7 linked regions of the Homo sapiens genome follow. The protein of the gene in region 4 purifies or fractionates together with the protein of the main gene of each other region. This does not show direct contact. Each region holds a gene or a part of one and is shown on either strand. Other genes may lie near its edges.

Region 1 (3,500 bases), on a different chromosome or scaffold from region 4:
ATGAAAAGATGCCCACAGAGAGACTTGCACATGAATGTTCGTAATATCATTACTCATAGCCAAAAACAGAAGCAATCCATATCTAGATCAGCCAGTGAATAAACAGACAAAATGTTGCCTGTTCATACAATGGAATACTACTCAGCAATAAAAAAGGACTGACCTAATACATGCAACAACTTGGATGAATCTCAAAAGCCTATGTATGATAAGTAAAATAAGCAAGACACCTAAGACTACATATTCTATAATTCTGTTTTTATGAAGTTTCTTTAAAAAGCAAAACTATAGAGATAGATCAGTGGTTTCCTGGGGCTGGGGAGTGTTCTTTTGCAAATGGGCACAAGGAAATTTTTTGGAGTGATGAAAATATATCAGAACTGATGATGATTATACAGTTGTATAAATTTATTAAAAATTATCAAACTGTACGTTTTAATTGGATGACTTGTGATTTGTCAATTAGAACCGAGTAAAGCTGTTAAAAATAATTTTAAAGGGAGAGAAAGAGAAATTAAAATTAGTGTTTAAGTAACTTGTACAAGGTCATGTAGCAGCACGGTGAAGAGCTAGTATTAGAGCTCTTCCTAAAGCCCCACTGTTTGTGTTTCCCATTGTAACTGTAGTGTGTCCCTGAGCAGATTACCTGCTAAAGGGCCTATGCTTCATGCTAGATCAAAATTCCCCTTAATCATCAATGCTAAAACCTTTTTTTACTTTTAATCTTACTTAGAGATTCCTTATTAGCAAGTTTGCTGGATGGAGTAAGAGCCTCTGGTAATAGAGATGTTTGTGTAAAAATGACACCAACCCATAAAGGTCAGCGATGGGGGTTACTCAGCATGCCTGTTGATGAGGAAGTAGAGAGCCTTCACCTCAGGTTCTTAGCTACGCCTCCAAGTAAGTATTGATTTAAATGTAATTACATTTCCACTCATCTACTTAATTTAAGAATTAGGAATTCGTATCTTCTTTTTGAACCTCTTAATCTCTTTACAGATGGCAACTTTGCAGATGCTGTATTCAGGTTCAATGCTAATATTTCATACAGTGGAGTCCTACATGCAGTAACACAAGATGTAAGCTAAGTTTTATCATAATTGTTCATTGTTACTAACTTTTGGTATGGAAACTTTTTTGAAATACTCTTTCTTCACCTAGGGTCTCTTCTCAGAAAACAAAGAAAAACTGATCAATAATGCCATAACAGCATTACTGTCCCAAGAAGGGGATGTCGTTGCTTCAAATGCGGAACTTGAGAGTCAGTTCCAGGCTGTGAGGAGGCTTGTGGCATCCAAAGCTGGTTTCCTGGCTTTCACTCAGCTTCCAAAGTAAGTTGTCTTCTGAAACTTAACTTCTCTTAGAGAATTTGAACTACTCAAAATGGCAAATAATGAACGATTCACCTCCTTTTCCTTGACTAAACCAGATACCTTTTATAGGGTGATATGGTACTTTATTCATGAGAAATGAAAAAGGAAGGTGAGGGCAGCAGAAGCGGAATATTGGTCCCATACTCACCAGTAATATAACTGACTCTTGAATTTGAATGGGAAATTACATGCCTTTTAGTTTTAGTTAACCCTAAAAAATATTTTCCCTCTCAAAGAAAAAACTATTATGAAGACTGATAAATTTCAGAGGTGGAATTTAAAATACGTCATTGTTCCAGTAGTGCAATGGAAAGTTAATATGATCTATTTCAATAATATAACAATTTAAAATGTTCTGGTATTGCTAGTATATGCTTGTTTTTTGTTCCAAAAGGTTTCGCGAGCGTCTAGGGGTGAAGGTAGTAAAAGCACTCAAAAGAAGCAACAACGGAATAATCCATGCAGCAGTTGATATGCTTTGTGCCCTTATGTGTGTAAGTAGTAGTTTTCTTAAGGAAACTGGTTTTTCTTAAGTTGACTGGTGGTTTTGATTTCCACAGTCCCAGATTTTCATTGTACCAATAAGTTCTTGTTTCTGTTTCATAAATTGTTCTCATAGTTACTCAAACCTTTGTTTAGCATATCCTAAATACCAGGCAATGTGCTGTGTGCCAGAAATTCAAAGATCTTAAGACAGAAGTTCTTTTCTTCCTCACTTTGTTGACAGTCTGGTAAGGTAGGCATATCTGTACAAGGTAAGGTAGTAGGGGCCATAGGATCTTGAAAAGCAGCACTTTATTTTTGTTTGGTGATGAGGGGAAGATGAAAGATTCTCACCCAGTCTTTCTGGAAGATGTTACATTTGATCTGAATCTTGAAGGACAGGCAGGAATTTTCTAGCTCTGGAAAGGCCTTCCTGGGTGGGGAATAGCATATAAAAAGGCATGTTTGGAAAGCAACAAATAATTAAATATGGTTGGGTTATAAGGTATGGATGGGGGGTAATTAGGAGTTGCAGCTAGAGATGTATGCAGACAGTAATAAAAAACCTTCTGTATCAGGAGGGAGGAGCTAGATTTTTATCTTTTTGTAAGGAACACCTGAAGGATTTTTTTTAGCAAGAGAGCAGTAATGTGATCAGGTTTGAGTTTTTAAAAACCCACACTGGTAGTATGTGGAGAATAGAAGTAAAATTAGAGGCAGGTAGACCAAATTGTCACGTAAGAAATGAGTTGCTGAGCTAGGGTAGTCACAGGGCTAAAGAAGCAGCACACCTGAAAGCTGTTTGCGCAGTAAAGATCTAACTTAGTGGCAGCTTGTACAGAGGGAGAAACAATTGTTTAGTACAGTTTTGAAGTTTCTGATTATCTCAGTTTTGTGTGTAGTACCTGGGACTTTTCCTTATATAAAGTGTTTTAGGCAAGCTTAGTCGTACATAAACATAAGTAAATACTTCTGTAAAACCTTGCATTCCCAAAAGCAAATTAATTTTATTTACTGTTCCAAACAAGTAGTGAGATAACTAGAACTTAACAATGATATGGAGAGTTGCTTTATTCGAACAAAAGATGTTCCTATTACCCAGGAAATTCTAATGGTAGAGAGCTTTGTGTCAGGCTCCCCTATCAGGAAATTGCAAAGTTCTTAGGAGCTCTGTGTCAGGAACCAGGGTAAAAGACTGTTGCAACAAAAGATTCTGCTAGTGCCCCTGTCTGCAAGGGTTTTAGGTGCTCTATGTCAGGAGCCAAGGATGGAGACCAATGTATATATTTTTTAATATTTCATGTATTCTCCCTGCTCAGAATTCTTTCCCTGCTTATTCATTAAGAGCTCAAGTCAGCTTTTAAATGAAGCTTACCAAATATACACACCTACTATGTACCCACAACAATTAAAATAAAATTTTAAAAATAAATGGAGCTTTCTTATTCCTGAAGGTGGTAGTGATGTATCCCTCCCTGAAGTGAGATTACCCTTCATAAATATTACACTTGTCTTTCTTAGCAATTTCTTCTTTGAATTATTGCTATTTCTAAACATGATGTATTTTTCTCAATCTGTCAGCTTCCTGAGGATAATATTCATGTTTAATTTTAATTTTTATCCTTAACAGGCCTTGTCAAGCTG
Region 2 (3,038 bases), on a different chromosome or scaffold from region 4:
TAAACTAAAAATACAGCTTTCTAAATAAGGTGACTCGAAGTAGGTAGGTCTATATCATAATAGCTGAAGCTGAGCCTGAATGACTCAAGAAGATGATTGATTTGAGGAAGGTTGTTAAATCAGTTCTAAGAATCTATGGATTAATAATTTGAATTGAGAAAGTGAATTGTGAGTAACATTTGGTATAGTATATTGATAGATATTTTTTCATTTTTTATTCCTGTTTGTCATTATGAAGTCTTCAGTGTAAAATACTATATAGTTACTTTTTCCTCTTGTGTTACAGACCAAACTCAACGCCTAAGGTAGAACAAGCAAGGTAGAAGAGACAATACTGGGCAAACTCGTGAAGTTAAACTTGTTTAAGTGGGTAGCTTTTACTTAGATTCAGCCTTTTGTTGCCCTGTGTAGCCTTTTGTTGTAGGTCCCAGAATTATACCTCGTGATAAATTACAAGTCTATGTTTATGCATAACATTAGACATAACATTAGACATAAACTGTTTTTACCATTTTATTTTTGTTTACATATTTGTTTAAAATCAGTGAATTTCTTTGCCAGGTTCAGATAACTGAAGGGCCTTTATAAGTAGTTTATATTGTTCAGACCCAAGGTATGCTGAAAACATAGTCTGGAGCAAAATAGGAAATAACATCTTTCTAAAGACAGGCTTAGAAGTTCTAATCCAGTAACTTAAGATGTTCCCTTTGTGTGGTAACAGAGCTGATTGATACCTGTAAGAAAACATTGAGATAGTTCAATAGAAAAGATTGTTGCATCAAATGGCAAACCCATCTGTGATACATATTAGTCCTAGAAGTCTTAAGATAAAACTGAATATTAAAGTAAAGGTCTTCAGTGTCTATTAATCCTAAAAACTTTTGTTTCTTTATCCAGTTTGCTTCAAGGCTATAGCATAGATTGCTGATGCAAGAGTTCAACAGAGAATAGCCAGAATTATTTTAGAATAGAAGGCTAATATAACAGCTAGACATTTTCTGATGGAATTTTCCTTTAGTGCAAGTGTTCAAACTCATCCAAGATAATTGTTTATATGATAGAAGTTTCATGCATAATACTGTTTGCAGCTTTGTAGTTAGTTTAGTATTCAGTACACAAATTAAGGTTAATAGCCTAACTACACACCAAGTATAACTGTTTGAAATTCTTGATAAGTAGAATTTCATTATAAGAAAAAACAGGTCTTGCTAACTTCTAATCAAGAGGGTAACATTGCCTTTGGTCTAAATGCCTTAAAAACAAAATATATTTGCTGCTTTAAGTTGTGAGTTTTATAGGTAATCACATATTATAAAAAGTTTTTTATTTCCTACCTGGCTGCTAGACCACCATTTACAGGTATAGCCAAGAAAACAGGGTATAGACCACCAATAACAAGACCAGTCAGTCCACTCCGTGTTATGGTACAGGTTTCACAATCCAAATCACCTAGGAAATAAATTAGTCATAGAAATGAAGGTCATGATAGTCAAGCAAACATGATTTAAAGAATGTAAGATCCTCTTTTGTGTATCACAGGTATTTTTCAGGTAATATATCAAATGTAATTGTACAAAGCCTGTTAAAAGGTATAATTACATCTATGAGTAACTTAAAATAGCTAGGAATAATTGGTAAAACTATTTTAGGAAAAAAAGTTCTCTAATTTGTTCTCAACTTAGATATAATAATCTCATGGTTTGGGCTACTGCTAGCTTTCTGCCTTGTTTTTTATCAACAGACCTAGGCTAATATTTTCACTCAGTCTGTTCAATTAAATGGGCGATAGGTCTTCCTTGATCATAGAAATTGTTTCCACTGGTCATGGGAATTAAAACAAAATACTCGTCAAATTTAAACAAATTTGGAGCAGCACTTAACAAAATTTAGATGGACTGCCTTCCCTAGCACCCATGGTAATATTTTTATTTGAAATAATTAATCAAAAGTTTTTTTTATGATTAACTGTACTCAAAGTATTCAGCACACATGGTAGATTTTCAAAAGGAAATCAAATCTCCATGTATTTGATAAATGTATATGCATTTAGTGCTTTAAGAGATTTACTGTATAAAGAGTTATTCCCATAAAAATATTTTCCCCCTTTAAGGAACTTCTCTATAAAATATAAATAAAAAATCTAAGGTAGCCAACATATTATTTATATACATTTGTATATATATAATATTTCCATATATATAATTTTCATATATATGTATATATGGATTTCCAAATATTTCTTACTCTAAATGAGCACTGTGAGAAAGATATGTTAGAAAAAGGGAAGTATTGCCGGGTGCAGTGGCTCACGCCTGTAATCCCAGCACTTTGAGAAGACAAGGCGGGTGGATCACCTGAGGTCAGGAGTTTGAGACCAGCCTGGCCAACATGGTGAAACCCTGTCTCTACTAAAAATACAAAAAATTAGCCGGGCATGGTGGTGGGCACCTGTAATCCCAGCTACTCAGGAGGCTGAGGCAGGAGAATTGCTTGAACCCAGAAGGTGGAGGTTGCAGTGAGCCAAGATTGCGCCAGGGCACTCCAACCTGGGCAACAAGAGCAAAACTCCATCTCAATTAAAGAAAAAGTATTTAGAACTGCTGTGTATGTGCATCTTGGTTGGTAGACCATACTAATATGAATTATTTGCCACATTATATAGGCTAGCAAGATTTAATCTTAACTGCATTACAGCATACAGCTACTTGATATTAATAAGTATGGACTAAAGCTGCAAATAACATATACTAAGGCAAACTCTTTGGTGATAGTGAAGTAGAATTTACCTGTATTCAAAGGAAAACTTACAAAACATCTGTAAGTTAAGTCTGTTGTAAGAAAAGGTATCCCTGCCATTGGTAAGCCAGCAGCTATGCGAGCCTTTGTCACATTCAAGATGCGTCGAAAAAGACTGTTTGCTATGAGGCCACAAAGAGCAGCATTTAATCCAACATAAACCGATCCATTTTCAAGTAGATTCCTGAAAGGGTGAGAAGAAAGAACTTTTCTTTGGCATTATTGTGTGTGTGAGCTTTCCC
Region 3 (3,500 bases), on a different chromosome or scaffold from region 4:
CAAGATCAAGCCACTGCACTCCAGCCTGGGCGACAGAGTGAGGGTCCATCTAAACACACACACACACACACACACACACACACACACACACACACAGTTCACTGGGGGTGGGGCAAGAGGCACCACGTGCCAAAGGGTAAAATGTCAGCCAATGGTGAGTCTGGCAGGGCCAAGAGGATATGGGAATTTTTGTAATTTTCCTGTAAGTCAGAAGTTATATATACAATTATGGTATAAAAGACTTTCATTACTGAGAACAAGACAGAATTTCAGTTTCTTTTGAAACAAGTCTCAGTCCTTATGGAATCTGAGACAGCAACAGATAGCTTTCGTTTCACATAGCTGTGTCTGGAGCTCCCCACCGCAGGTGACCCGCCCGCCTCGGCCTCCCAAAGTGCTAGGATGACAGGCGTGAGGCACCGCGCGCGGCCACACTGTGTGTTTCTGTTGAGATATTTGAGAGCAGCTTCTAACGCTAAAGCTTCCTGTGTCCATGTGTCTTTTACTACCACTCAGGAGCCACCGGCGAACACCTTCTCCCTGGTCTACAGACAGAAGCCTCCGGGAAGTCCCGGAAAGCAGGGTCATCTCTTCAGTGGCAGGGACTGCCTCCAGGGCCCTGGCACAAAGTCCCTACTTCTGAATCTCAGGATGTTTTAATCAATAAAATAAGAAAGCTCCTGGCTGCCAACCTCACCAGGTCGTGAGTGAGAAGCCGGCACATCAGAAACATGCGGAGCCCTGGGCAGGCACCTCCCAGACACTGTCCATCAACTGCCCAGGCAGCAGAACCAACTCTCACACAAGTAAACGTCGGAGTCCAGGAAGCCGGGCGCGGGCAGAGGCCAAAAGGAGGAGCTGCTGGCTCTCGTGGGCTTGCTACGGGGCTGGCGGTCCGCTTGTCCTCAGCTCCAGGCTTGCTCAGCCTGCACCTTGGCTGGCGGCGTGTGGACTGAGGACGTTAACGGGGCAAGGCAACACTGGCCTACGCAGATGAAGGGGTCGGTGAGCAATGTGGCTCCTGCACCCTGCCTCTGAGGGGCCCGCTGGGTGGGAGAGTCATCACCCAGCTGACGGCATCTCCGACACTGGAAGTCGTGGCTCCTACAGACCTCACACCCCACAAACCCAAAAGGGGTGTTCTCATTAGTGGGGGAGGCGTGGGACGAGCTCCACTTCTTCCCTTGCAACCTGGAGTCCAGCGTGCAGTCTGCCCATCAAAGGTCATGATGAACATCTCCCAGGATCTGCAAGCCTGGCACCCAGGGCCTGCAGCTCGACACCTGGCAGGTGCTCAATCCACGGTGGCCGGCGCAGCCACCCTCTTCTGCCTGTTAAAGCAAAAGCCGTTTTGGATGGCAACCTCGCTTGCTGCGTGCCATTCGGGTGCCTGTGCGGTATTTATGCGTAAAGTCCATCTGCAGAGGCTTCCTCTGGCCTAGGCTGACCACAAAGAGCCCTGACCTCCTGGCAGCACCAGAGTGGGCTTCAAAAACCGGCGGCCAGCCCGGCCATTCGGGGCCAGCAGCCTCAATGGGGGCAGTTGGCAGGCGACCTTTCCCTTCCTGCTGGGCCGGGGGACCAAGCCAGGAGGAGCCTGCCTCCCCACAGACCCCACCTGGCTCTGGGCTCCGCCAGTCACACTCAGCTCCGTGCACAATCTCAAGAGGCAGAAGTCCAGGCCCAGTGGCGGCTGATGTGTGGGGAACCCTTCTCTTCTTCCAGAGCATCAGGAAGAGCCTCTAGGGACTTTCCTGCCCCTAAGACCAGGTGGGAAACCAGGACCACTTCACCCACTGCCTCAGGCCAGTGAGCCCAGCCCGCCCCTCCATAGCCTGGACTCCCTCTCCCCAGCAGGGTCAGATGCCCCCCCTCCAGCCCACGCCTGCAGGGTGTGGGGTCCACAGAACACAGGAGCGGTCCGTGAACTGGAACGCGCTGCTGTGTGCTGAAGGAGCCCCTGAATGCCCACATCCTGGGTGCTAACTGTGGTCACCCTCATCCTCTCCCTGCCAGCCCCGCCCTCCCAGGCGGACCAGTGTTCTCCTTGGCAACGCCTGGAGCCAAGCTGGAAGCTCAGCCTATAAGCATCTGTCGAATGACTGGCCTCTGCCAAAAGCCCTGTCACAGCTCTCAGGGATTCTGACATCATGACATGGTGTCACGGGGACCAGGCCTGGATGGGAAAAGGCCTCAGTTCACAGAAGACAGCACAACCTCAGATTGACGGGTCGCACCATGAACATAGCCGCCTGACCAGGAGCGCCCTCTGTGCGGGGCGGGCAGTGGAGGAGTGTGGACTCCCAGCTCCGGATCTTCCACCCCCTGGGGTGACCCCGGGCCCATCCCTCAACTCCTCTGTGCCTCAGTCTCTCTGGCAAAGCCAAGGGTTAGAGCCAAGGCTACAAGCACAGCTGGGCACGCTGCGCGCTGCTGCTAGCTCTGGGCCACTGGGGAGCTGCTGTGTGAAGGGCAAGCGCCAGGGTCCATGCTGCTGCCTTTCTAGACACCGGCCTGCTCCAGACCATTGGAGCCAAGGCGAGCCAGTCAGGAGCACATCCACCCTCAAGGCCCATTCACAGGAATCAAAGGAGCCGACACAGGACAAGCCATAAACCACAAGGAGCAGCGGCCCCCAGCGCAGGGGCAACCAGGCCAAAAGCACAGATGCTCCCAGACAGTGGCTCTCCCCCCAGCAGGACACTGGGTGATGTCTGGGAACATTTGTGGTTGTCACGACTGGGGGTACTCCTGACCCGGAGTGAATGGAGGCCAAAGGTGCTGCCCAGCACCCTGCAGTGCCCACGGTGCCCCAGAGTGATCCAGGCCAGAGTGCTGACAGAGCCCAGGAGACCTGCCTCGGAATAACTCCAAATGCACCAAGAGAGCCCCAGAAAGGCCGGCACGGCCCCATGAGGTTCCCTATCACTCCCCGCACTGCAACAGCCTCCCCCAGATCACGGCCCTCTCTGGCCTGACCAACAATCTTGCCAGGTGCCTTGTGCTCACTCTGCACAGGTACAAGTAGTCACGGCCTCTAGGGGCCCAGCCAGGAGCCCCACTCAGGATGTCTCCTTCCACAGCCACCCAATAAACCCAGAGACCTGCCATGGGCCTGGCTCTGAGCTGCATGGCCCCCGGCCACAGTCCTGGGTATCCTCGAAGCTGCCCAGAGGCGGCTTTCTCCTCTCTCCGCTGAGTCCTTCCTCCCTCTGTGACTTTCCTACAATATTTCCAGGTGTCCCTGTCTTACCATTCCCCAGTGTACCAGATAAAATCTTCCATAAACCTCTCTCTCCAGTTCCATGACCGTGTGCTGCCTTGGAAGCCAGCAGAACACAATGGCCTGGGCGCTCGAGGTGACCCCTCTGAGCCTCTGTCCTCTCCCCAGTAGGCCAGGCATGGGCCCTATCCCTGACACCTGGTCTACCACCCAGGCGCCTAGCACCCAGCGGCTACTCAACAGGATGTGGCGACCCCGGCCGCGCTGTGTCAGCTTC
Region 4 (4,159 bases):
CACTTCCTCCTCCTCCTCTCCCTCAGAGAGGAGGTCACAGATCTGTTGCTGCAGCTCTGGGCTAATGCTGTTCTCAGCCAACACCAGGCTCCGCAAAGCTGTGGGGTAATTTTCTACCATGTCCAGCAGGGTCTGAAGTGGGGAAGAATATGGAAAAGGATGAACACAGTTAAGGCAGGTCCTCAGACCTCAACCTGCCATGCCTTAGGTATGTCATCAGACACATAAACTAACCTCCACCCCATCCCCTGGCCGTGCCCAAACATGACGACTTCCCACCTGAGCTGACTGGTTGGTGAGCCCTGTGCCCTCCAAGTCTAGGACCTCTAGGGTACGACTAGAGGCCACAGCTACAGCCAGCATTCCTGCCACATGGTCACCTGGGGAGACAACACACGTGCACACATTCATACACATGCCTGCTAATCCTTACAGATAGCTTCCCCATTGCCTTAACAACTTTAGATACTAATCCCTGGCCAAGGAAACATGGACAATTGGTGGTGGTCAGGAAGGGATCATTGTGATTGGTGAGTGAAGGCACGAAGCAAGTTAGGCCCACGGGTGGTGACTGATGTTTTGATCTATTTGTTGGTCACCTGGTCCGCCACAAAGCTATCTCCTTGACCCCTGGGGGCTCCCGTTTCTCTTCCCTCTCCCAGTGTACGGGTTACCATGTCAACTGATGGTCCCAGGCTCTTGGATAGGGCATGAGGCAGTGACAGCCCAAGGGGGTATTCTTGAGCCTCACCCAGGGGGTTGTAATCCAGATTGAGGACGCGGACCTGGGAGCTGTGGGCCACGGCAATGGCAAGGCGGCTCCAGCCCTTAGGGGTGATGCCAGGGTTGGCACTCAGCGTTAGCTCCTTCAAGCCTGGGCAGCATCATAGCAAGAAACCAGAATAGGGAGGGTTAAGCCCTCCTCCAGCCCTTCCCCACAATCCCTGTGTCTCTGGGGTGTCCCTAGTGGCTGGGCACCACCTTACCCCCACCATAGAGGTCAAGAGCCATTAAGGAGGCCCATGCTTCCTCTGCCTGCCCCAGCCTGGATTCCTGAGTCTCCATGCTGCCCCCCGTCCTGCCCCTTCCTGAGAGGAGTAGAAAGATGTTCTCGCCCACATCATCAGAGCTCTGGGGCCACACCCCCTTCCCTCTGCATTTCGATTTTCATCACTGCCACACTAGCCCAAGCCCTCAACAGGGTCCTGCTCACCAGATTTGGCCCCATCTGGGGGCAGGAGGCCACAGATGAGGTTGATGGCTTCATCACCCAGCATGCAGTCCCCCAGGTCCAGAGCCACGAGGGCAGGGTGGAGGGCCAGGGCTGGGTTCAGCAAGGCCAGCCCCGCATCTGTCAGGGGGCTCCCATGCAGGCTGGAGGAGAGTGAGAGAGCAGGGTTACTGCAGTCCTCCGCACTATCTACATGGGAAAGGGGCACTTTCACTTCTGTCAGCCCTAGGTATGGGGAGGGCAGTCACAGCGCTTGAGAGGCCTGGAAAAGGAGAAGGAAAGTTCTAGATTCTCAGGGAATACAGATAGAGGGAGAATTCGGTTTGTTTTCTGGGGCAGGGATCCAGGACATTGCACAGGGAGGGGCAGAGAAGGGGTGGGTGGGTGGTGGACCGGAACTCTGCAGTGGGCAGGGCTCTCGTCCCCACGGGGATATTCCCCCTTGGGAACCAAGGAGCTGCCCCAGTGAAGTAAATGCAGATGATTAGGTGGGGAGGTACGGCCCCCACCTCATGTCAGGAACTGGTGGGTATCCCAACACGGCTAGGGTCGCGCGTGCAAAGTCCAAGCATGTGCTTGGAGGGTGCTGTGAAGGCATGGGCCGAGGCACGGTGTATGTGCATAAGGCATGTGAAGGTAGGATGGTACTGGAAGGAGTGTGGAGGAACAGGAGGTGCCAGGGGAGTGTATGGAAGGGTGCAGTGCCCGGGACCCCCTTGCGAGGGGGCGCACTCACAAGAGGGACTGGATGGAGCGGTTGGTCCGCAGAGCCTCAGCCAGCTGCTTGATGCGGCTGGGGCTGGACACGACGCCCAGGTTAAGGTTGAGCTGCGCCAGGGACGTGGCCCCGGCCAGGGCCCGGCAGATGCGGCCAAAGTCGCGGTCGCAGAGGCGGCAGCCGCGCAGTGAGAGCAGGCGCACGGCGTTGTCGCGAAGGCCGCGGCAGATGTCCCGCACCTCGGCGCCGGACAGCGGCTCCCCCGAAATCTGGATGGAGCTGGGCAGCATCGTGCCCACGGCTGGGCCTCCGGGTACGGGGCCGGAACGGAGGTTGGTGGGGCCGCGGGCGGGGCCGGGGATAGGGCCGGGGTCGGGGCCCCGGCAGGGGTCGCGGGCGGAGTGGGGCCGGGGGTGGAGGCGGCGGCTGTGGCGGAGGCTGCGGCTGCGGCGGAGGCTGCGGCGGGGGCGGAGAAGAGCTACCGGGACTGAGCCGGAGCCGGCCAGAGGTGCGGAGGCGTCCAGGGCGCGGGCCGGGCTGAAGTGGGGCGGCGCTGGGGCGGGGGCGGCCCGCACGGTCCGTGTCTGGGCGTTGGGGCGGGTGCGCGTTCCGGGGGTTGGGCAGGCGCTGCTCGGCGCTTGTCCTTGTCCCTCGCGGTCGCGGCGGCGGCGGCGGCAGCGGCAGCGAGCGGCTCAAGGGCTTCGGCTTACCGGTCTCGGCTAGGAGGCCGTACCCGCTCCCTCCTTCTCTGCCGCCCGGCTCCCCCCGACCACCCCGCGGGCCTGGCCGCACGGCTGGCAGAGAGAGCCTGAGGCGGGCGGCTGGCGGCAGCTCCGGCTCCAGCTCCAGAGAGCGAGCGGGCGGCGAGTTCCCATGGCAACGGCCGCGTCACCGGCGCTCGCCCCGCCCCCTGCCCGGCCAAGGCCACGCCGGCCCGCGAGGTTCGCGTACACTGGGTGGTTCGGGGCAAGGAGCTGGGAGCGATAGGCCGCTCTTCCCTTGGGAGTGGGGTCAGCCAACTGGCAGGCGGCAGGCGGCAGGGCTGAGTGGGTAGGGCTGACGGGGAGCGGAATGGAGGCACGCCCCGTGGAGATGGCGTTGGGCACGGTTACTGCTGCTTCTGCCCATTCTTCCATCCTTCCCCGTTCCTAAGGTCCATACCCCCGCCGGAATCCAGGGCACTGTTCCCTCCTATTTGGAAGGCCCCAGGGCCCTTTCATCCGCGCCGCGCCTCGCTCCCGCCCCCGTGACTCGAGGCGCAGCGTGCGTGGTGATCCCGGCCCATGGGGACTTCCCCGCTTGCTCCTCGCCAAGATGGCGGCCTCATCAGGGAGGCCCCAGGGGCCACGGCTGGGCAGAGCCAGCTTGAGCTGCTGGGGAGAAGGGTACCCCATAGGGTCCCTAGGGCAGGGGAGCCTCAGATAGATGCAAGGTCCTGGTGCCACACCTTCTCAGGTACGCAGGGCACTGTTGACATCTGAGGGTGTGTCCGTGCCGCGAGACTGGGGCAGCCAATACAAAGAAGGTGCCAGGGCCAGGGCCCTGGAGCACTGGTGAGGACGTGAAGGCGGCTGAGCCACACTGCACGGTGCAGGCGGTGCTGTCTCAACTTTGTCCTCTGGCCAGGGTGGTGGGGGACTCACTTGTGTAACGCAGGACAAATGAAGGGCACCTCTGTTTGTCCCTTTGTTAGGAGGGATAGATGCTGCTGACCCAGATTTACTAGTGTTAAGATGATTATTTTACATAAAATATAATATTCAATATAGTGAAGGGAGGTCAAAGGCCCTATTCCCACTCTTAGCCACCTGAATTAACTTATTAAGTGGAGCATATTAAAGAGGTGGTGGGGGTGGATGGTGCTATGTTAGGAGTGGTGGTTGGTTTTAAGAGGAAAGACAGAAAAACTAAAAGGAGCTGGCCCCAGTACCACCAAGGCAAAGCCAAATTTGGCTTCAATTAAGAGCTCCACAGGAAAATTATCAACACAATGCCCAGGTGCAGAAGATCCTTGTTTTGACACGGGGTTTAAGTCGGGATGTTTTGTTCAATTGTCACTGCTTCCTTGGCTTCCCAAGAGAGCAGCTGAGCCCAGACTCAAGCTGGCTGCAGTGTTCCATCAGGCTTATGGCTTTTGTGCTTGAGGCCTCCCTGCCGCTTCATGGGTCAGGTGTGATATTCAATCACTGCCTTCTATGTAGTCTGGCCTG
Region 5 (3,500 bases), on a different chromosome or scaffold from region 4:
TTTATGAGCTATGCTATAGTAAATTCACAGAAAAAATGGAGATGGCTTAATAATAAACCAATAATAAACTAATAAAAATACTAGTTTCACAACAATGTAAATATACTTAACATTACTGAAATGTATAATTAAAAATGATTAAGACAGTAAAGTTTATGTTATGTGTTTTTTACCACAATTAAAAAAAAACCAACACCAACATTAGCTTTGTTAGAAAAATATTAAAAGGATTAAAAGGATAATTTACTGTAATATTTCTCATAACAAGCATTTCTTGCTTATTCACAATAAATATTCCTTCCACTATTAAGGCATGGAGATTATTTTTCTATAGTTTATGAATTAAAATCGATAAGTATTTTATAGAAATAATATACTGGAAGAAGATACAAATATGCTACAATATTTAACTGCATTCTACCCCCTAAGCACACATTTTCCAAATTCTCTATAATGATGATGTAATTTTCACATTCAGAAAAAAGATTTTTTAAAATTGAGATTGACATTAAATATAATAACTGTGACAATTAAGTAATATTTGAGGCCTGGATTTTACATCTCAGAATTCACTCAATGTATACCAGCTTATTTAATTCACCTCTATATTTCATGCTTCTGTGTTAGGACAAAGGCCAGTCTGTGGATGTGCAAACATTTTTTTTTCTTTTTTTTTTGAGACAGAGTCTCACTCTGTTGCCCAGGCTGGAGAGCAGTAAGAGCATGGCTCACAGCATCCTCAAACTCCTGGGCTCAAGCAGTCCTCCCACCTCAACCTTCTGAGTAACTGGGACTACAGGTCCGTGCCACCATGCCTGGCTAATTATTTTTAGTAGCGATGAGGTCTCGCTATGTTGCCCAGGCTGGTCTCGAACTCCTGAGCTCAAGCGCTCCTCCACCTTGGCCTCCCAAAGTACTGGGATTATAGGTGTGAGCCCCTGTGCCCAGGAGCAAATTGTTTTTTTATAAGTAGAGGCAGTCCAAGAGAGCCTACTAAAATCTTAGCTACCCTGTATCCAAAGACTCTTTGGAAAGAAAAGTGGAATGGTTTGGGGCCCTACAAAGGTTAAGAGAAATTAGTAGAAATATGTTGAGATATGCACAGTTGCAAAGACCCTTTGCTACACTGTTTGATAGCACAAAACAACAATAACAAAAAATGCTACTGTTGAATCTAGAATTCACTAGGAAAGACATTCTAGTGACATATAATCCAAAATAAATCTAAAATTATATACAGCCACAGGTAGACAGTGCATATAAATGACAACACTGAGATTGCATTCAGGAGGTTTAAAGATATATTAAAAACTTTTGTTAACTATATTTGAAAACAGTCTTCTCACCTGCGTGGCCTAGTCCTTGGGGACATCATTTCATTCCCAAGTATGTGGTACCGTCTTGCTTCATGCAACAACTGATAACACTCAGGAGAATTCTGGATCAATTGGTCCACTTCAACTGTTTGAACAAAGTAGTTGGGATGCAACAGAGGGAGTCTCACATGTGTCAGGAGCTCGTGTAACAGTGGTCTTCTCAGATCAACGGCACGATAGACCCAACGCATGACGGCTTCAAAAACCATCTCCTCTTTACCAATAACAAGTTCATCACTACAAATATAATCAATAAGTTCATCTTTGTCAAGCTCAAGAAATTCTTCGTGCTGGGATACATCCTCAAAAGTCTGTAACGCAAAATTTTTGCATTTTGTGAAGAGTGTTTTGAGTGAATGGGTATCAGCAAAGCGCTGGATTCCTAAGCAATTACAAGGATCAAGTTGCTCCTCCAAGAACTTGGCACATGCATCACGGAGAACACTAATCTGAAAGAGGCTTGATGTCTCAAAGAGATACTGTACATTCTCTGTAGTGATCTTCACCTTTCCAGTATAAACATACTGCAAAAAACATTCCATAGCTTCAGCTAAAATACCATTGATCTCAACCAACATTTCTCGGCTTTCCCTGTGGTCATTACAAAACATAGCTCTGAAGTAGCTGCTACAGGCTGAGAGCACAGCTCTATGGCAAGGAAATTCTTTTCCTTCCACACAAATGATAACATCTGTGAATAAGCGGCTATCACGAAATTCATTAAATATCTGGAGTATGTTTTCGGCATGGGATGATCCTGAAGAGAAGTCAAAAAACTCATGACCTGTCAGAGATTTGGGGTCCATTTCAAAAACTTTTCGCTTAGTTGCTGGGGAATCACGCACCCCAAGATCCTCTCTGTTTAGTCTGCGTCCCAATATTAGTACCATTGTTACATCAGTTGACTATATAATTGTTGAGAAATGACTATTAGGGATCTTCTTTATGTGGCTAAAAGTAAAAAAAGGAAAACATTTCAATATGCAAAAAATTCAGTATTCAAATCACATAATTTCATTTTAATATAAACACTACAACAAAATCACATAATATATTTCATATAGGGTACACAGCACTATCTCATGTTAATAAAAACTAATCAACAAAAATTTGCATTTGAACAATTAGAACATTGGGGTAATTTGCAATAGTACTCCTTAAGCTCCCCTTTTCTAGCTGAAAGGATACTATGTACTTCGTGAGTTACTAATAACCTTCCGTTTCCTCCCCATTTACAGAGCTGAGTTTCATACTATTGACTGTAGAGTTAAGTCAGAATGGTGTAAGACACAATTTGACTACAGTTAGAATTCTAACAGTTATCTTTCTTTTTAAGAATCTTTTTTATTTTGAGACAGGGTCTCACTCTGTCACCAAGTTTGGAGTAAAGTGACATGATCATAGCTCACTGTAACCTCAAACTCCTAGGCTCAAGCGATCTTCCTGCCTCAGCCTCCTGAGTAGCTGTGACTATGTGTGCGTACCACCATGCCTGGCTATTTTTTTTTTTACTTTTTGTAGAGATGGGATCTTGAACTCCTGGCCTCAAGCGATCCTCTCACCTCAGCCTCTCAAAGTACTGGGATTACAGGCATGAGCCACCATGCCTGGTGAAATAATTATTATCTTAATATAGAATTCCTAGAGAGGAATTTAGCTATATCTATCAATAGCCTTTAAAAATATGTACATTGTTTGACCAGCAAGTCCTTTTTTTTTTTTTAGCACTCTCTCCTAAGGAAATAATCAGAATTATGTCGACAGATTTATCTATGCAGATGTCCAATGCTGTATTGATAGAAAATACTCAAAATAACCTAAATGCCCTATAAGAGGGGATTGGTCAAACCACAGTACATCTTCTGGCTAGAACAAAGTCTATGCAACCATTAAAAATTATATATGACTATTTAACGACATGGGGAAGTAGTAACCACACAGTAAGTGAAAAAGTAGATCACAAAACATATGCCAACAGAAAAAATAATGTATCTGTGAATCTAGGGATAGGATGTACATATGCTAAAATGTTTTATTTATCTTCTCTATTTTCTACCAAAATTTCTATTATAAAATTTAATATTCATTTAAAAAAATTTCATGCATGTTATCTAGGTCTTGTTC
Region 6 (3,500 bases), on a different chromosome or scaffold from region 4:
GGTGCAGCGGTGCCGCAGGTGTCACCTCGAGAGTGCAGTCGGAGAGCGCCGCGGGTGAATGGGCCAGGCAAGGCAGGGGTACCCTAGGGATGCGACGCGGGGCTCCTGGGGACAAACCCTGCCCCAGGCCGGGAGGGAGGAGGGAGCAGGAGGGTCCAGCCCACGCCGCTGGCCACATCAGAGCACCAAGAGAACACCAACTGTTTATTACAGGAATTCCTATGAAACAGCTCCAAGAAAAAACCCACACATAGGAGGAAAAAAAATAACAAAGCAACACTCAACAGACATGGGGCTGGGGCTTCCCCCACAGTGCGCCGGGTCCTGGCGCGGGGAAGGCTCAGAGACCCGTCGAGAACTCGAGCTGGGGTACCGAGGCACTCCTCGGAGACCCCCCCCCCTCCCTCCAGGGCCCCAGGCCTGGCGCGGGGAGCAGCGGAGGGGGCGACCGCTCCTCGGCAGGGCCCCCCGAGCCAGCGTCCCGGCCCCGCGCGCGTTTCCAAACTTGGTCACGCTCGGCGGCGGCTGCGCGTCCCGGCCCTCCCCAAGCTCGGCGTTGCGAGTCCGGGCAGGGTGGGCGGGACGAGGTGCGATCGCCGGCTCGCCTTCGCTACGCCCTTGTGATCTTGGGGCCACGGAGGCCACCAGGGCCCGGCCAAGGATCGGATGCCACTCCCAACCTCCCAGAGCCGCGCCGAAGCCTCGTGCCTGCCCAGGCTTCCCGGCTCTCCGGAAGGTCTGCGCGCTCCCATGTCCAGGGCGGGGCCACGGGCTGGGCAGCCTCCCTCCCCGTGGCAGTGGTCAGTGCCGTGTAAGCGTTCCTAGAATCAGAGTTCTCCTCCTCAGATCACCCGCCCTTCTCAGGGGCACCCAGCAAGCCCTTATGCCCTAGGCGCTCACCCAGGCTGGCGGCCTTTCCGCCTTGCTCTTTAGCCCTGCACCTGCTCAAAGGGGTCACTCCAGGACCCACCGCTGCCCACCCTCGGACAGCAGGGCTTCCAGTCCAGCTGGGGAGTCAGAGCCCCTGTGAGCCCCTACTGTGGTGTGACTCCAGAACTGGCTTTTGTCTGCTGCCAAATTAAAGACCCTGCCTCCCCAGAGTCCTCCAGCTCCAGGGTGGCCACCCTCCCCATCCCTGCTGGGTGACCGGGAGCTGCTGGGAGTGAGCCCATCCCTAACAGCAGCAGCCTGATGAGGCCAGACGGGGCAGGGCAGTCGGCAGATGCTTTGCAGTAGCCCATAGCTCCTCAGAGTTCCTGGGGGACTGGCCAGGGACCTCCCACCCAGGCTGGGTGCAGGGCTCGTGTGCTGGGCCAGCAGCCCCGGGGGAAGGCTGAGATACAGGAGGACATGGAAGGGAAGGGCACAAGTGCCCGGAGGGAGCTGAGGAAGGGGGACCAGAAGGGAGCTGAGGAAAGGGGGTCAGGCAGAGTCTGTGACAGGAGAGATAGAGAACGGACGGAGGCAGAGACTCCACCTTCAGGCCAAAGAGCCTCTGGTGGGGGTCATCTTGCCCTTTTCCATATTCCAACTTTTATCTGCTTTCTGGATTTTTTTTTTTTTAAAGGGAGGTTGGTTCCTGCATTTCCACTCTTTGACCATAGGAACGCCTGGCTACAAAAGGGGCTGTAATTGGCTGCTGCCTATAGGGGCCCCAGGTCCTTCCTCCAATTGCAAGGCAGCAACTCCGAAGTTCTAAGTCCCATGGAAAGTGGCAGTGGTTGGGCTGGACTGTGGCTGGAGGATCACCGGGCCTCGGTTCTCAAGCACCATCTGTCTGGCTGCAGCTGGGCCCTTCAGCTGGGGGCCAGTGTTGCTTTCCAGCTGCCCCCACCGGGTCAGATCATCTCTGGCAAGGAAGAGCTGCTGGCATCTGGTAGGGGAAAAAAGGGATGGGAGGAATCTTTTTCAAAGGAGCCCAATGGTCTTTCCTGGTCACTGGTTCCTGGAGAGACAGTTTTGGGAGAAGTTACTAAAGACGTAAGCCCTCTCCTTTTTCCAGGGACTCGAGGTCAACCGTAGAACTCTGCCTGGGTCATCCCCCCATTCAAATTCCTAGAACCATTCCAGCTTGCCCAGCTGCAGGGACTCTGGCAGCAGGAGATGGAGTGAAGGAATGGAATCCCGGGGTGAAGCAGCTGTAGGGGAGGGCTTCAACGTGGGAGGGTACCTGGCCCATTCTAATACGTCATAGCTCAGGGGAGCTAGGCCACAAAGACCTGTAGGTGGAGAAAAGTAAACTGGGGGCAGAACTTGGTAGGACTCAGACACCAGGCTGAAGAGTTCCTAAGACTTTACTCAGAAGACTCATTCAGGCCAGGCGCAGTGGCTCACGCCTGTAATCTCAGCACTTTGGGAGGCTGAGGCGGGCCGAGGTCAGGGGTTTAAGACCAGCCTAACCAGCATGGTGAAACCCCGTCTCTACTAAAAATACAAAAATTAGCCGGGCGGGGTGGCACGTGCCTGTAATCCCAGCTACTCGGGAGGCTGAGGCAGGAGAATGGCTTGAACTTGAGAAGGGGAGGTTGCAGTGAGTGGAGATTGCACCACTGCACTCTAGCCTGGGCAACAGAGCGAGACTCCATCTCAAAAAAAAAAAAAAAAAGAAAGAAAAGAAAAAGAAAAAAAAAGATTCATTCAAAGAGCACAGGAAAAATGGAACTAAAGTGGTGTTTTGGTGGTGGGATAATCAGAGTAGGTAGGGGCAGTGAAGAGAACAGGGCTGTGACCTAGGTGATGAGCATCTATCAGGGTGGTAATGGAAGGAATAGAAAAGAGAATGAAAGGGGGCAGTCAGGAGGAGAGACTGAGTTGCTATCCAAGGCTGAAAAGAAAATCTTGGGTGCAGCTGGGGACACGAAGCAGCTCTGGAAGCCTAACTGCGATGGAGATTCAGATGTAGGAGCCAGATGCGCAGAAGTGTTGCTGGTGCTATAAAAGAGGGCGGAGGCACTGCCAGAGTGGGCAGTGAGAAGACTTCGAAGAGGGTCAAGGGCAGAGCAACAAGGAGAGCCAGTATTTAGGGAGTGGGCGGAGCAACAGGAGCCAGGAGAGAGGAAGGAGAACCTGGCTTCCTGGGGTCACAGGAGCCAAGGGAGGGCAGCTTCAGGAGAGATCAGGGGAGTGCGTGTGGAAGAGCACCATAAGAATGCAGAAGATGCTAAGGCCCTGAGCTGCTGGGTGACCTCCGAGTCAATCCGAGTGATGGGAGGGGCTGTCAGCCTGCAGTGGATGAAGGAGGATGGCAGGGAAGACTCAAGGACCCTTGGTGTTTAAGGGGAGGAGGAGGAGGATGTCAACTTGCAGAAGGAGCTGGAAGGGGACAAGCTGGAAGTCCTAGGACAGAAATAAATGATGAGGTGCAGGTACGGTGGCTCACACCTGTAATCCTAGCACTTTGGGAGGTCCAGGCGGGCAGGTCACCTGGGGTCAGATGTTCGAAACCAGCCTGGCCACATGGCAAAAATCCATCTCTACTAAAAATACAAAAACAAATTAGC
Region 7 (2,842 bases), on a different chromosome or scaffold from region 4:
GCACACTCTCAGACCATACACAGTGGTCACTAGGCTTCTCCTGCCCCTAGTGACCATGGCCTGACTCCCTAGACCACCTGGCTTAGATAATCATGGCCATTTCATTCATTCATTCAGTGATCATTGACTGAGCATGTGTATACTAGGCCTGAGTCCAGATGCTGGGCTAGTGGCAAGCTGGTTCTCATCCCTGCCATGGAGGGGCACCAGGCAGGCACTGAGCTGGGGAGCAACAAGGCAAGAAACCCAGCTGCTTGAAGTAAGGGCCTAGGTCAGACAAAACTTTTCTGAGAGAGGGGTATTTAAGCTGATTGTCAGAAGAATTAGTTAGAAGTTAGCTAGCCAGGGAAGGGGGTTTGAGGTAGGAAGGGGCTGATTTCCAGGTGAAGACAGCTACCTGTTTGTGCACATGTGTGGAGGTATATGTGACATACTCAAAACTACAAGGCTAGGATGCAGTGTCCAGTGTAGAAGATCCGCAGATGGGGCCAGAGAAAGAGCAGGAGCCTACGAGAGGGGCTTGCATGCCAACCTGCGGAGATTAGACTTGATGACTTGATGTAGCAGTCACCAGGGATCCCTGGGAGGCATTGATTGATTGATTGATTGATTGAGACAGGGTGTCACTCTGTCACCCAGGCTGGAGTACAGTGGTGTGATCACAACTTACTGTAGCCTCAACTTCCTGGGCTCAGGTGATCCTCCCACCTCAGCCTCCCGGGTAGCTGGGACTACAGGTATGCACCACCATGCCTGGCTAATTTTTTGTATTTTTTGTAGAGATGGGGGGGTCTCCCTATGTTGCCCAGCCTGGTCTTGAACTCTTGGGCTCAAGCGATTCACCCACCTTAGCCTCCCAGAGTTCTGGGATTACAGGTGTGAGCCACCACACCTGGCCCATGGGAGGCTTTAAGGAGGAGAAAGGTCACCCTAGCAGCTAAGTGGAATACCTGAGGGGCCAGCATTGTAGTTCACAGCTCCATGCATGAGCAGTTTGGTTCACGTCTGTTTTCCTCTATTCCACATAGTAAGCCTATGGGTAGAGCATCATCCCTGGAACTTGTCTGGGGTCATAAGGCCATGAAGTCGTAACGATAGGGTTCAAGCCTGTGTGGTTTTCACTGTTCCATGTGGTCCTTGTAGACAGTGAGGGAACAGAAGCAGGATTCGTGAACAACTTGTCTTCTCCATTCTTGCATCTCCCCTGTTGCTAGATGCCTGTTTACTTTATTCCCTAGCTCAGAAGCTTTCACTGGTTCCACCTGGCCTGTAAAATGAATTCAAATTGATCTGTGTGCATTTTTTTTAAGCCCTCCATGTTCTCATCACTGCCTGCCTCTTTGACTTTGCTTTTCTTCCCCTTTGCATTGCCTTCTTCCCACATGTGAACACGTTGTTTTCCCTAAATTGTGCTCATCCCTGCTGTCATGAAATAGAGATATTAATGAAGCTATGAAAGTACTAGAAGAAAATATGGGTGAATTTCTTCAAATCCTTATAGTAGGGAAGGGCTTTCTTGGCTGAAACTCAGTATCCAGGAGCCATTAAATAAAAGTTATGCATTTTGGGTTTGTAAAAGCGAAAAATTTAAAACATCTCTTACAGTCCACAAATAGATATACCTACTATATACCACAAAAATTTAAGACATTTAAAAAAAGGTGAAAATTTCTGCGTGGCAAACCAAACCAAACAAAAAACCGAAGCAAAGTCCAAAGGCTAACAAACTGGGAAAAAAATCTGTAACACTCATCACATAAAGAGCAAAATCTTGCTGTTGTGTGTGTACACATAGCAAGAGAAAGAAAGTAATTTAGCCTCTTGGAATTCAGACAGTGAATAATTTGTACATTCTCTTTTGATCCTTATGCCAAGAATTTCCTTTTTTTATTGTAAAACTTTGGATTTGTTCTCTTAACCCTCAAGCCTATCTTTTAGTCTTCCTAGAAGCACCGTGTTCTGTGGAACTCAGCATCAGCAGCTTTGCTGAGGACTCCCCCATCTTCCTTTCCTTCCCCGGAAAGCACAGACCTAAGTGAGTCTTCACTGGATCCCAGCTAACAGCTTCTGCCCATTCCTATCTTTCCACAGAGCCAGTGGCAGCCCCAGCTGCAGCAGCTACGTGACATGGGCATCCAGGACGATGAGCTGAGCCTGCGGGCCCTGCAGGCCACCGGTGGGGACATCCAAGCAGCCCTGGAGCTCATCTTTGCTGGAGGAGCCCCATGAACTCCCTGCTTCCCCTGAACCCCCAGCAAGTTGCAGAGGCTACTGCCCTTGGGAGGCACTCATGAAGGTGCCTCCATCTCTCCCTTCCCCAATATACCTGATGGTCAACTCTCCTGCTTTGTCCAGTTCTTGACCTTTCTGGCTGATCTGAGTTGGTGGAGGCAGTGGGGCAAACAAGGTGTGCTGGTCTTGATGCTGTGGCATCAAAGCAGGGCTGGCCCCTAGTTCTGGGCCCTGGATGGAGGATGTTAGACCCTACATCATGGGATGCTGTGAGATACCCATGTTAACTTCTGGGAGAAGTTTCCAGCCGTAGCCCCCAGACTCTCTGGGGCTTTGGAGTTTGGGAGCCTCAGGATGTGCCGAAGTCTAGGCAGAGCTATCACCCAATCTTCAGGGTGGCTGCTGGATTACAGCTGTGCCCAGAAGAGGCTTATGCTTCCGAGATGTCCAGTCTATGGAGTGGCTGGGTGGACTTTCAGGGGAAGCACATGGAGGCAGCTTGCCTTCCACATTTCTCTCTCTCTCAATGGCTTCCACAGATTTCTTTGTCCACCCCACCAGTCTATTCTCACCAAGCATTTTTTGATGCTTGTTCTGTAATGATTCCAGA

The links.
Region 1: the proteins of LRRC73 (region 4) and DNAJC13 purify together in Homo sapiens (co-immunoprecipitation; one large-scale study listed by IntAct). This does not show direct contact.
Region 2: the proteins of LRRC73 (region 4) and TMEM126A purify together in Homo sapiens (affinity purification with mass spectrometry; one large-scale study listed by BioGRID and IntAct). This does not show direct contact.
Region 3: the proteins of LRRC73 (region 4) and DAZAP1 purify together in Homo sapiens (co-immunoprecipitation; 2 studies listed by BioGRID and IntAct, with this or other methods). This does not show direct contact.
Region 5: the proteins of LRRC73 (region 4) and KLHL24 purify together in Homo sapiens (co-immunoprecipitation; 2 studies listed by BioGRID and IntAct, with this or other methods). This does not show direct contact.
Region 6: the proteins of LRRC73 (region 4) and CUEDC1 purify together in Homo sapiens (affinity purification with mass spectrometry; one large-scale study listed by BioGRID and IntAct). This does not show direct contact.
Region 7: the proteins of LRRC73 (region 4) and UBL7 purify together in Homo sapiens (affinity purification with mass spectrometry; one large-scale study listed by BioGRID and IntAct). This does not show direct contact.

Annotation. Positions count from the first base shown.
Region 1 is NC_000003.12:132,455,502-132,459,001, forward strand, and holds part of DNAJC13 (dnaJ homolog subfamily C member 13), read left to right. Parts: intron 1-733; coding exon 734-900; intron 901-999; coding exon 1,000-1,079; intron 1,080-1,161; coding exon 1,162-1,331; intron 1,332-1,767; coding exon 1,768-1,867; intron 1,868-3,500.
Region 2 is NC_000011.10:85,654,005-85,657,042, reverse strand, and holds the end of TMEM126A (transmembrane protein 126A), read right to left. Parts: intron 2,981-3,038; coding exon 2,787-2,980; intron 1,450-2,786; coding exon 1,335-1,449; intron 735-1,334; coding exon 542-734; 3' UTR 501-541; downstream 1-500. UniProt on the Homo sapiens protein: Protein required for the cotranslational protein quality control in the inner membrane of the mitochondria.
Region 3 is NC_000019.10:1,410,586-1,414,085, reverse strand, and holds part of DAZAP1 (DAZ-associated protein 1), read right to left. Parts: intron 1-3,500. UniProt on the Homo sapiens protein: RNA-binding protein, which may be required during spermatogenesis.
Region 4 is NC_000006.12:43,507,547-43,511,705, forward strand, and holds the start of LRRC73 (leucine-rich repeat-containing protein 73), read right to left. Parts: upstream 2,801-4,159; 5' UTR 2,240-2,800; coding exon 1,968-2,239; intron 1,375-1,967; coding exon 1,214-1,374; intron 875-1,213; coding exon 752-874; intron 381-751; coding exon 280-380; intron 133-279; coding exon 1-132.
Region 5 is NC_000003.12:183,649,123-183,652,622, reverse strand, and holds part of KLHL24 (kelch-like protein 24), read right to left. Parts: intron 2,328-3,500; 5' UTR 2,267-2,327; coding exon 1,347-2,266; intron 1-1,346. UniProt on the Homo sapiens protein: Necessary to maintain the balance between intermediate filament stability and degradation, a process that is essential for skin integrity.
Region 6 is NC_000017.11:57,861,413-57,864,912, forward strand, and holds part of CUEDC1 (CUE domain-containing protein 1), read right to left. Parts: intron 1,874-3,500; 3' UTR 1-1,873.
Region 7 is NC_000015.10:74,445,477-74,448,318, reverse strand, and holds the end of UBL7 (ubiquitin-like protein 7), read left to right. Parts: intron 1-2,091; coding exon 2,092-2,229; 3' UTR 2,230-2,342; downstream 2,343-2,842.